Linked DNA regions of Homo sapiens. The protein of the gene in region 1 interacts with the protein of each later gene in a pairwise test. Each region holds a gene or a part of one and is shown on either strand. Other genes may lie near its edges.

Region 1 (3,856 bases):
GATGTTCTTTGCTACCAGAGTATCTATTTTGCAGTGAGTGCAGGAACCCTGTCAGTTTGTGCCCCGCAGGTGGTCATGGAAATGCATAAGTGGATCCTAGTCCTTGCCATCCTTGCCTGCCAAACGCTTTCCTCTCAATTCCTGCTAGGAGCAGGCAGTCCCGATCCAGCAAGGTTCCCATCCTCCCTGACCCAGGCTGCCGGACACCCAGTCACTCTGCATCAGCACTCCGCAGGCCTGGCCCCGGACGCCCACAGCCACTCACCTCAACTCCTGGTTTAACACTTTGATCTTTCCGTTTTCCATTAGTGAGTAGTTGGCCTGGATGCAGCGTCCATTCTCAAAGGTTGTTGGGATCTTCTCAATTTCGTACCATCTTCCGAGATACTGCAGAGACAACAAGCAGAGCAAAACCCTGTGGTTCTCTGGGGACCTGCAACTTCTTCCCCATTGTCGTGCAGACGCAGAGCCCTGTCCTGGGGAAGCCAGACAAAATGGGCCTCATTGTTCCCAGTGGCAACTGGGCAAGAGATTGATTGCAATGAGAATCTGTGACTAGGATGGGATGTGCGGGCAGGGGGTGAATGCTGAGTAAAGGGCTCTTCTCAGGGCCCACTTCAGCCAAAATCGCTGTGACATTCTAGACTCTGTAAAAAAAGGGGATGATGGGAAATACCTTTCATCTGAAACAGTGCACAATTCTACAAGTCATCTTTGAATCCTGTGCAAAGTCAGATGTGTTCGCTGTGGGGAGCTAGGACTCCAGAGCGCACGGAACTTTCCTCATCTGACCCTGAGGAGGGATTTAGTCATCAAGGCTTTGGAGAGGTGGTGGGGATTTGAAAGGTCTGTATCATGCTTTCTCTAGGGGCCTGCGCTCAGTCCAGACTTCAGGTGTATACAGTTAGCTTTAAAGGAAGCTGCCACTGTGTGGGGAAGGTCGAGGGAACCAGGCCCTCCTAGGCTGCCTGGCACGCGTTGCAGGGAGACCATACCAGTTTACAACCTCTGCGGAGGGCAGTTTGGCAATATCTAGCAAAGCTAAAAATACATATTATACTCTTTGGCCCAGCAATTTCACTTCTGGGAATGCATCCTCCTGATATAAGAAATGATGTATGTGTAAAGTTATTCATTACAGTACCGTTTGTAATAATACAAGATAGGAAACAGCCTATGTGAGCATTAGTAGGGGGCTGGGTGAGTAAACGATGGCATATCCAGACAATGGAATTTTACTTCCTCTTTCAAAAGAGTGGTATGCAGTGATTTCTAATATTTAATGACAAAAGAGTCAGGTACAAAATAGTGTATCTATTAAGGCACCTTTTGTGTAAAAATGGAGAAAATGTTTATTACGTTGGTTTTCTGTTGCTGCTATAATAAATTAGCACAAGCTTCAAACAGCACAGATTTATTATCTTGCAGTTGTGTAAGTCAGAAGTCTGACAGGTCTCACTGGGCTGAACTCAAAGTGTTGGCTGTGTTTCCCTCTGGGAGCTCTAGGGGAGGATCAGTTTCCTTGCCTTTTCCAAGTTCTACAGGCCGCCTACATTCCTTGGCTTGAGGCTTCCTCTATTTTCAAAGCCAGCAAAAGGAAGTCAGATCCTTCTCACATTGCATCTCTCTGACTCTTATGCCATCATCAAACCTCTCTCTCTTATCACAGCTGGGAAAGATTCTCTGCTTTTAAGGATTTATGTGATTAGATTGAGTTCCCCTGGATAATCAAGGCTAATCTGGCCATCTCAAGGCTCATAACTTCGATCACATTTGCAAAAGCCCTTTTCCCATGCAAAGTAACATTCACAAGGTTAGGGCGTGGACACCTTTGGAAGCCACTCTTCTGCTTACCACAGTTATTAAGTATTTGCTTGTATATGTATATATTATCTGTAAAATTACATAATACATGGTTTTTACTAGTTGCTACTGGGGAGGGAAACTGAGGTACAGAGGTGGGAGGGAAACTTTATGTGGTGTATTCTTTTACACCTTTAGGATTTTGAACAATGTAAATATATTTATCTAGTTAAAATACTAATTAGAATTTTGTTTTTTTGAGATGGAGTCTCACTATGTCACCAGAGTGGAGTGCAGTAGTGCAATCTGGGCTCACTGCAACCTCTGCCTCCCGGGTGCAAGTGATTCTCCTGCTTCAGCCTCCCGAGTAGCTGGGATTACAGGCACGTGCCACCATGCCCGGCTAATTTTTGTATTTTTACTGGAGAAGGGGTTTCACCATGTTGGCCAGGATGGTCTCAATCTCCTGACCTAGTGATCCCCCTGCCTCGGCCTCCCAAAGTGCTGGGATTACAGGCGTGAGCCACCGCGCCTGGCCTATTCTAGAAATTTAAAAACAAAAAGAGATGCGCTCACCTTCAGAGTCAGAACTTGAAAAGAGAGGATGCTGCACACAGGTGAGTATTGCTTCAGCCACGGCTTTCCGCTCAAATGTATGCCACATTCATGACCATAAAGTTCTACTCACTTATTAAAGCACAGCTTTCAATTAAAGCCACTGAACTTAACATTCATTTAAAGTACCAAAGAATAAGGTTAGAGGTTAACTGGTTTCATAGACATTCTCGGAAGAAGCTCCATTTTCTATGGTGCATTCAAATCTGTTCTATTTCTGTTAAAGTGAGTTTAGTGCCCCATAGTAAAAACCAAGGAAGCATGATTTTTCAGAAAAGAGGAAACTCAGAGCTTCCTTATGATCTCATATTATTTTTGCAAAGGCTTCTTAATCTTTTCAGATCTCTGGTCAGTATTGAAAAATAATCCTAGAAAAGAAGAGGTAAAACTCTATCTGTTTGCAGATGACATATAAAATATCCTAAGAAATCTAAAACAGAGACAAAACCAAAAACTATTGGATCTAATGAGTTAAGCAAGGTTACAAGATACAAGATTAATATTCAAAAATCAAATATATTTCTCAGCCAGACGCAGTGGCTCATGCCTGTAATCCCAGGACTTTGGGAGGCCGAGGCGGGTGGATCACTTGAGGTCAGGAGTTCAAGACCAGCATAGCCAACATGGCGAGGCCCCATCTCTATAAAAAATTTAAAAATTAGCCGGGCATGGTGGCACGCAACTGTAATACCAGCTACTCGGGAGGCTGAGGCAGGATAATCTCTTGAACCTGGGAGGCAGAGGTTGCAGTGAGCTGAGATGGTGCCACTACACTCCAGCCTGGGTGACAGAGCAAGACTCTGTCACACACACACAAAAATATATACATATATAAACATATTTCTCTACTTGCAATGAACAATTTGCAGATGAAATTAAGAAAATTCCATTTAAAAGGCCGGGCACGGTGGCTTGCTCACACCTGTAATCCTAGCACTATGGGAGGCCGAGGCGGATGGATTGCCTGAGCTCAGGAGTTCGAGACCAGCCTGGGCAACATGGTGAAACCCCGTCTTTACTAAAATACAAAAAAACTTTGCTGGGTGTGGTGGCGTGTACCTGTAGTCCCAGCTACTTGGGAGGCTGAGGCAGGAGAATTGCTTGAACCCGGGAGGCGGAGGTTGCAGTGAGCCAAGATGGTGATGCTGCACTCCACCCTGGGTGACAAAGTGAGACTCCGTCTCAAAAAAAAAAAGAAAAGAAAAGAAAAAGAAGAAAATTCCATTTACAATAACATCAAAAGAATAAAATATTTGGGAATAAATTTAACCAAAGAAACATAAAACTTATACTCTGAAAACTACAAAGTATTGTTGAAAGAAATTAAAGATGACCTAATTCAATGGAAAGATACACTATGTTGACAAGTTAGAAGACTTAATATTGTTAAGATGGCAGTACTCCCCAAATTGATCTTCAGATTTAATGCAATCTGTAT
Region 2 (3,500 bases), on another chromosome or scaffold:
CTTACCCTTATATAAGGAGGAAAATAAGTCTGTTTACTCTTAACTACTCTATTTGGCATTGTACTGGAGTTTCTAGGCAGTGCAAATGAAATATGAAAAGAATGGCATCCAAACTGGAAAGAAAAAAAAGTAAAACTGGCTTTGTTCACAGATATCATGAATGTCTTTGTAGAAAATCTAAATAAATCTACAAAAATACTACTAGAACTAACAAGTAAGTGTAGCAAGGTTGCTAGAAACAAGATTCAATCCACAAAAAATAATAGCATTCTATGCACTAGTAACCATTAGAAATCAAGTATTTTTAAAAGTATCATTTACAATAGCATCATATATGAAATACTTAGGCATAAATCTGACAAAAGTTGTGAAAGAATTGTACACTGAAAACTTAAAAACAAACATTGCTGAAAGAAATTGAAAAGATGCAAATAATGGAGAGATATACCACGTCCATCTACCAGGAATTCAATATTTTTAAGATGTCAATTCTTCCAAATTTATCTATAGATTGTAATCCCCATCAATATTACAGCAGAATTTTTTGTAGGCTTCAAGAAATTAATTCTAAAATTCATTTGGGAATGCAAAAGACTTAGAATAGTAAAAATGAGTTTGATAAAGAACAAAATTGGAGTACAAACACTACCTAATTATATTGCTTTCTATAAAACTACAACAATAAAGACAGGATAGCACTGGTGTTAAATAAATATATCAAGAGAACAGAATAGAGTCCATATGCATATGGACAACTGATTTTCAAAAAAAATACAAAATTAATATATTACAGAATGAAGAATACTTTTTTCAACAAATGGTGCTGGAACAATTGTCTATTAATATGCAAAAATGAACTTGCATTTATACCTCTCTCCATACGAAATCGTAACTAGTGATGAATCATAGATCTAAAGGTAAAATCCAAAACTATAATTCTCCAGAAGGAAATATTTGCAACCTTGGTTATGCAAAGAGTTCTCAGATAAGACACCAAAAGCACAATAAGTTGATAAATTGGACTTCTTCAAAATTAAAAACTTCTGCTCTTCAAAAGACACTGTTAAGAGAATGAAAAGACAAGGCACAGAAGGGACAAAATATTTCCAAATCACACAGGAGATAAAAGGCATGTATCCAGAGTATAAAAACAACTCTTGAAGCTCAATGGTAAGAAAATAAACAATCCAATTTTTAAAATGGGCAAAAGATCAGAACAGACAATTCACCAAAGAAGATACTATATGGATGGCAAATAAGGACATGAAAAAAATTCTCTACTTCATTACTCATTAAGGAAATGCAAATTAAAACCATGGTAAGATACCACTCCACATCTCCTAGAATGGCTAAAATGTTTTCAAAACCTGACCACACCAAGTGTTGGTGAGGATGTAGTGAAACTGGAACTCTTATACACTGTTGGTGGGAATGTAAAATGGTATAACCATGTTCAAAAGCAGTTTGCTCGTTTTGTACAAAGTTAAACATATACTTATCATATGATCCAGCCATTCTACTCCTAGGTATTTACCCAAGAGAAATGAAAGCATATGTCCATACTAGGACTAGTACAGGAAGGTTCATAGTTTTGTAGTATTATTTGTAATAGCCCAAACTGGAAGCAACCCAAATGTCCATAAACAAGTGAATGTATAAATAAATAGTGGTATAATTTTACAATGGAAACTACTTAGCAATTAAAAAGAATGAACTGTTGTTACCCTCTACAGCACAGGTGAATGTAAAAATAATCATGGTGAGTGAAAGAGGTTAAATAAAAAAGAGTACATTCTGTATGATTCCAGTTATATAACATTTTAGAAAATGAAAACTAATCTATAGCAACAGAAAGCAGATCAATGACTGTCTGAGGATGAAGGTGGGGGAGGGCAGGAGGTGAGTAGAGAGGGAGCAGGGAAGGGTGAGAGAAAGGGATTACAGAAGGCCACAACAATCTGTGGTGAGTGATGCATACGCTCAGTGTTTTGACTGTGGTGATGGATTTATGCATGTACACTTACGTCAAAGGCCCCTCCTAATTTGCTCCTGTCCATCACTCCACACTCATGGCAACACCCCCTGTATTATACTTTAAAATTTAGCAAAGCAATATTGAATCCTTGTCTTAATGCTTCCTTCCTTACTTTGGTAATGTGTTTCTTTGCTGAAATTTTCTCTTTTCTTTCTGGCCTCTTATTCTGGTTAGTTACTCATCATCCTAATGATGTGTCACTTTTCCAGGAAGTCCTCTCTGTTTGTGTCTAAGTCTTCACACCCAACCCTCACTTGCCCTAAGGAGTATCTGTAATACCTGTGTACCTCTGCCATTGTACTAACCATTTTGTTTTATAAGTGACTATTCCCTCACTAGAATGTGAGCTCCTTGAGGGTAGGATCTATGCTATTCATCTTTGAATTCTCAAAGCCTCATTACCTCAGAATTATCTGATGTAGTGGAATGAACATGACACTGCAGAGTCAGGAGCCTTGGGCTTGAATTTTCAGTCTGCTAATAAACTGATGTTTTGGACATAGGAAAATAACTAACTCACCCATCAGTAACAGAAAGGAATTGAGCCAGATGCCTCCTAGAGTCACATCAGCCCCAACATCCTGGTATCCTGTGACAATTAGTTCAGGCCCGTGTAACCTGATTGTCCACAGAACACCAGCTGGCTAGGTGCCCACAAACTTAGGGACATTCCTACTGATTCTTTCCTTCACAGACAGGAAGAAGAACCTCTTCTTCCTTCCTCTCCCACTTTCTACCTCTCCAGACTCATACTAAATTGAGTAAGAAAATCTTCTCACCTGGTGAAGATTGTCACTACTTTTGCCACATGCCATAAGGGCCCCAGAGAGAATGCTGCTCCGTTTCCCCTTCCCCTTTTCACTGTTACTGGGCAGTGATTAAGCCTCCCACCCCTTCCAACTACCATCTAGAGGAACCGACACCCCTCCCACAGTCAAAGTCTATGACTCTTAGATGCATGACTCATGGTTCTATGCAAAAAGCCACCAATATCAGTTTCCAGGAAACCTGCGTGACCAAACTGCACTTAACTGTGGCTACCTTCCACAACTCAACATGGAGGTTAGGGATCAACTTTGCTCTTTAGTTTCCTCCAATGGGCTTGAGCTGGTAGAACCTGCGGATTTCTAATTCCATCCCTGTCTTTTTTTTGACCTGTACTAACAGCACCATGTAATCTACTCTTGAATTTAATCAAGCTTAGAAGTGGTTAAGGTTGGATAGAGGCTTCAAGAACCTCGATCAGGCTCGCCATGGTGGCTCACACCTGTAATCCCAGCCATTTGGGAAGCTGAGGTGGGAGAAGCCCTTGAGCCTAGGAGTTTAAGACCAGCCTGAACAACATAGAGAGACCCTGTCTCTATTTTAAAATTTTTTTAAGTTAAAAAAAAAAGAACCTCTATCAGTTCTTCATCTTCAGCCTTATCTGATCCAATATTACAAGCTAGGCTGGAGCCACATAAGA

Evidence for each region. Proteins that work in one complex are often made in the same cells at the same time.
Region 2: the proteins of APOD (region 1) and CD53 interact in binary tests that used the Homo sapiens proteins (3 or more experiments, as listed by UniProt).

What each region holds. Positions count from the first base shown.
Region 1 is NC_000003.12:195,573,585-195,577,440, forward strand, and holds part of APOD (apolipoprotein D precursor), read right to left. Parts: intron 388-3,856; coding exon 266-387; intron 1-265. UniProt on the Homo sapiens protein: APOD occurs in the macromolecular complex with lecithin-cholesterol acyltransferase. It is probably involved in the transport and binding of bilin. Appears to be able to transport a variety of ligands in a number of different contexts.
Region 2 is NC_000001.11:110,879,648-110,883,147, reverse strand, and holds part of CD53 (leukocyte surface antigen CD53), read right to left. Parts: intron 1-3,500. UniProt on the Homo sapiens protein: Structural component of specialized membrane microdomains known as tetraspanin-enriched microdomains (TERMs), which act as platforms for receptor clustering and signaling.